Linked DNA regions of Homo sapiens: region 1 is linked to region 2. The links come from fine-mapping of genetic effects on gene expression. Tissue or cell type: gastroesophageal junction. Region 2 holds a variant in brackets; the other region holds the start of a gene. All regions are shown on one strand. Distances are between the middles of the regions.

Region 1 (2,761 bases), 120 kb after region 2:
TAGGTGCTTCTTCTAAAACAGTTTATCCTGATAAAGGCATACTAAATTGATGCTTCAGTGGTAGTCCCAGCTAGTGTGATCACGCTTAACACCGAAGGAAAAAACTCTTAGGTCTAAAAAATCTTAACACAGCAGTAGTCAAAAAGTACCCATTAGAACACAGTTTTTCAGAAATCAAAATAGGTATTGAACATATTTTCTCTTCTATGACCACAGACTTTGTATTGCATCCCTGTTATTAAAACTATGTCTAGTCCATCTTAACTCCTCTATTTAAAATACAGACACTCCTTCATAGAATTCACAATCAGATAAATTGGCATACATAGTAACCTTATATTCAGGCAGAGTATAGGTATTTTATGTATCTTAAAACGCACTATCATAAAACACATATAATTAAAGTAGCATGTCTCTAAAAATGGAGCTGTTATACTGCATATATAATACCCGGAACCCATAAAATTACACAGATCTGGACAGGCACATTGCCTTTCACGAAATGTGAAGTCTGTTGAGATGAATTGGTAATAAAGATGAATCCTTGATTTTTGTTCTTTGATTCAGGTTTTTAAGATTGATGGTCTCCTAAGTGCCACTGAGACTAGAAATTCTCACTGTGCAAATTAAGTGTCCGTTAGAGGTAGGAGGGTAATGTAGGTTGTACACTTAAGCATTAAGTTGTTAAAGGACAACGAAATGGGCGGGTAGTGAAAGACACTAAAAACATGTGGGGAGGTAACATGAGATATCACATTGTTATTTCAAGCAGTAAATAATACAGCTTGGAATTAACAATGTCCACGGTAAAATTAACACAACCGAACTTGGAGGTTTTCTAGTATCTAGGAAACCAGCAGGGTTGAGGATCAGTTCCACCTCTAAACACCCCAACTAGATAGCCTCAGTTTGGGTAAAAAGAGAAAAAGGGCACTTGTTCTTTTGGCGGGGCTGGCCCAACTTCCTGCTGAACTACTGGCCCTCAGCAGCTTCCTCCAACACAGACGTGAAGAAGAGCCCCAGCCCCTAAGGAAGAGAGAGGGTTTATGACAATCTGTAAAGTGTCAGGGGGAAACAAAAGGTGCAGGGTTCGGCTGCCGTGAACCCGGAGTCCCAGGGCGCTCCCTCTACACAGAGCCTGAGGTCTTCCTTACCACCGGGTTGAGGCAGGCCATGACAGCACCTCCAGCACCTGGCCCTTTGCGCCTGCGCGGCACGCAGTGCCCTCGGAGGGAAACACTGGGCACGTTTTGAACGATGTACGTCAGGTGCGCAACCACGGAGAACGCCGGGGGCGTGGCTGGGCAGAAGAGAACGTTAATAGATGGAGCGGGTTTGAGTGGAGGTGGGGGTCAAGGCGGAGAGGCGGTCGGCCTGTGTGAGAAAAGAGACCCGCTAAAACGGATGGTTAGGTTGGGTCTAGCCGGCTTTGGGCCGTTCACAGGTTGTTTCCTCAATCCGTGAAAGATGAAAATCGAGGAGGGGAAATGCAGGGGTAGATCTCAGTCTAACTTCAGCTTTGAAGAAGATGGGGAAAGAAAAGAGGGGAGACTAGTGATATCTGTCCTCTGCATTTACCAATTTTCATTCCTCCCCCTACACCCCACTCACAGCTGAACTCCATTTTTTGTTGTATAAAAATATAACAAGAGCCAAATTTTTCTAAGACTTGTCAGCGTGGTACAGCAGCATCAGCAGCATCTGGGAACTTGTTAAATATGCAAATGATGGGTCCCACCCCAGCCCTCCTGAATCAGACTGGAGGATGGAGCCTAGCATTCTGTAACTTTAACATGCTCTCCAGGTGATTCCAATGGGCGCTGACATGAGACCCCCTGACCTAAGACAAAGAGTCTCAATTTTGGGTGCACATTAAAATCACGCGGGGAGCTTTAAAAAAAAGTTTAGTGCCTGGATCCCACTCGGCAAAATCTGATTCTAATATGCAGCCAAGGTGGAAAACCACTGCTAAAAGAAAGTCAGCAGCTAATACGTTCCTATCTCCTTTTCTTAGTTAGGCAGAAATCACCAGCTGTCTACCTACAATAATTCTCTCTCCTGAAGGGCAGAGCATCTTGGGGCATACGTTACCTAGCTAAGACTGAGGGAAGATGTAAGCACAGATAACCTGGAGGATTAGAAAAGGGAAGAAGTCACCATCTGTTGCCACAACTCTGCCTTTTTGGCAGGGTCTCACACTGTTGCCCAGGCTGCAGTGCAGTGGCATGATCACAGCTCGCTGCAGCGTCTACCTCCTGGGCTCAAGCAACCCACTGACTTCAGCCTCCCAAGGAGCTGAGACTACAGGTGTGTGTGCCACCACGCCCAGCTATTTTGTGTGTGTGAGTGTGTGTGTGTGTTTTGTAGAGACAGGTTTTCGCCATGTTGCCCAGGCTGGTCTCAAACTCTTGGTCTCAAGTGATCCACCAGCCGCAGCCTCCCAAAGTGCTGGAACTATAGGCATGACTCGCCGCACTTGGCCACAACTCTTCTAAACAGCCTTTCTATCCTGCAAATAGGTCTTGACCTAACCAGATGGATACGTTATTTGATGATTAAAAACTCTATTATATTTAAAATTGGCTGTTTATTTATTTATTTGTGCAAGTAAGTGCAGTAGAGCTGTTTATCCCCTACCACTGTGTATGTGATTTGCCTGGGTCAGGTACCTTATGGTTTGTGAGTTTCAAGTAGCTGATTTATATGATACCCTTTAGAAAACTTTCCTACATTGAAAACTATTAGAAATTTCTTTTACAAA
Region 2 (2,761 bases):
CTCACCTTAGATAACAATCCTAGTGTATGTTCATGTGCAGGAGGAGGTTAATGTCTAGTGTTTCGTTTACATATATTTTAATTCTGCAAACAGTATATTATATCTCCGTAATTTCTTGTTTCTCTCAGTTCCATGATTTGAAGATCCACCCATGCTACTCTGTGTGCCTTTAGACTCTCACTTCTACAGGCTCTCCTATTCAGTTAGGTGTGTACGGTCCAAATTTTACATACTCCCTCACCTAGTAATGGACACCCAGGTTGCCTCCAAGCCCCTGATGCCACAATGCTGTGAAGAAAACGTTTGTACAAGATTCCTTTAAGTATCAATTTGAGAATTTTTCTCAATGTATACAGGAGTGGAATTGCAGGGTTATTAAGATCATTGTTCACATTGCTAAAAGTTTCTGGCATCATGGAAAGAATCATAGATGCATCCAATAGAGAGTGGGACACCTTCAAAGGGAGTACATTCAAACAGTTATCAACAAATCATAAACTTTATTAATAAATTCTGGAGACAGATACTTGAATGCTTAGGAACTGCTACCCATCAAAGACGAATCAGAAATGAAGATGTGACATTTCTGAAAAAAAAAACATATAAGTCTGTAGGGAAAATGGTTTTCGATTCACAGGACCACATTCTCTGTGTTGCCTCATGGGAACACATCTGTTGTGAAAAGCACAGTGCACCTGCCTAACCCCACCTCTCTCCCCATTCCCTGGCCCCCAGGACTCTTTCTTGACCCAGCCATATCCACAAAGTCACCTGCTGTTCACTTGGTGTCTCTTTTATAGGGGAGGCTCTAGTTTCACTCTCCCCACTGCTGCCTTTCCTGCTCTGCAGCATCAACATCAACGCTGCAAAATTTCAGCTTGCACCAGGGCTGCTTCTGTAGCCACTGGAGACTGCCATTGCATGATCTACAGCTTCTTGCACTTCTGTCCGACCTTTGCTCCTCATCCCTCCTCCCTACATCAATCAAAAGCTCAGGCAACCTCCCTGATCAAATCTGAACCAAACTGCTCCTCTGGGAGTCACACCATGCTCCCATTTGGAGGAGGAGGCTGCCTGCTGAGAGACTTCAGCTTCTGGGCTCCATTTGCATGAATAAACAGCTCTGAAGTGTTCTGCTGAAGCTTTTATGTAAACACTCTCCAAAATATGTTCTGCACTGCATTATCCCCAGCAATAAAGATTCTGGAATCAGAATTTGGCTGTCAGTTTTATTGATGCTGCAAGGGGTACAGTGGAATACAGCTTTCTCTTCTGTAAATTTATTGGTTTGGCAGTGCAGAGAGCAATAAAACTGTGTTTTTAATCAGGAAGCCAAGCGAACATGATTCCAGAAGAAATATAGGAAGCAAAT[ATGCCATC/C]ACAAGAAGATTTCTTCCCACACTGTCCCTGTTCTTCTCGGATCCTTTGTTAAATGAGTTTAGGTGTTAAACGATGTCCTTCTTGGGAATGCCTTCGGGAATAGAATCAGAGACCAAAGTTGGATTACTTTCTCTAGGTTATATCATTTCTAAGAGATTATTGAGTGAAAATATTTTTCTGAAATGAAATTTCCTCCCTATTAGCACCTAGGGAGGAACGGCTGGTAAACCGCTTTGCAGAAGAAATAGAGCGAATGTGACATGCTTCCTCTCAGGAGAAGCAAGGTTGCAATGTCTGTCCCTCCACCTTGCTCACCAAGACATGGGATTAAGAGTGACATGCTTTGGCCAGTATTGCACAGGGAAAGGATGTCTGGAGTCATTCTGCCTCGTTGTAACCTTGTTCAGGTTACTTAGTCTCTTTGTGACCCAATTTCTTCTGCTATGTAAGAGAAATTCCCACCTCACACCATTGTTGAGTGAGTAAAAGAAGGTCACAAATGGGTGTGTATAACTCACATAGTAGCTTACAACTGTAGCAAGTCCCTTCTGGGACTGTAAGAAATCTTACTTTCATCTGCCCATCATGGAGGTGTTCTTTCCTAGAAGCTTAAAGCAGTCTCTGCTGCATAGACATGTTAAAAACAAGACAGCATCTTTCACCTTTGTTCTCATATTCCTGATACTCACATACTCACTTCCCACCTGAAATATCCTTGCCCACTCCCTTCCTCTCTGCCAGTCCTTGGGCCAAAACATTAAACCATTGTAGATACTCAATAAATGTTGGCTGCATGTTCGTCCCTGCCTTGCAGTTGCTTTCTCCTGAGTTATCTTAACCTCCAGTTCCTTTAGCATTCACACATCATCCTATACTGGTTTTGCATTTCTGAGTGTCACTCTTTTCTCAAATCTTAAGTACAGCATAGATTTTATTTCAATTTCAAGAATATTTAGATTTTTCCTGTGGGTATAAGTGAATGCCTGAAGGAAATGATCTCATAGACATTCCCCGCAAATGACATGAGATGCCCATGTGAGTTAACCATAGGATCAAAGTTGTCTCTTTGGAATAATATTGAAATAGGCTACCTGGGAAAGACAGTAGAGATCAAGATGGGAGCATGTTCTTAATGAATCTTCTGTTTTCCTGCCTGCATGATTTCCAGTTGTATTTTCATCATTAATGTCTCCACTCTACTCAACATAGTTTTTGTCCATCTTCCCAATCAAGTCTATAGGATCACTCTACAACTATTTAACTATATACTTGGTGCCAAGCCCTGTTCTTTACATGGATTATCCTGATTAATTATCACAATGACCCTGTGAAGTAGGAATTATTATTGCAATTTTACAGACAAAGAAACTGAGCTGGAGGG

What was found. PIP is the estimated chance that this variant, and not a neighbour inherited with it, causes the effect.
Region 1: it holds the start of GTF2A1L, and the variant in region 2 is fine-mapped to the expression of GTF2A1L in gastroesophageal junction (GTEx, PIP above 0.99). The same link has a PIP of 0.9 or more in esophagus muscle.

The regions. Positions count from the first base shown.
Region 1 is chr2:48,616,289-48,619,049 of GRCh38, reverse strand. It overlaps GTF2A1L (general transcription factor IIA subunit 1 like), which reads right to left and starts at 1,194. Exons shown (of 9, transcript NM_006872.5): 1 at 1,155-1,194. The coding sequence starts at 1,175. The region is part of intron 3 of STON1-GTF2A1L (STON1-GTF2A1L readthrough); the gene reads right to left.
Region 2 is chr2:48,731,603-48,734,363 of GRCh38, reverse strand. All of the region lies in intron 10 of STON1-GTF2A1L (STON1-GTF2A1L readthrough), which reads right to left. The region is part of intron 1 of LHCGR (luteinizing hormone/choriogonadotropin receptor); the gene reads left to right. Among named protein-coding and RNA genes, the nearest start is that of LHCGR, 23 kb to the left of the region's middle. The variant ATGCCATC/C (reference allele first, on the strand shown) is at 1,373.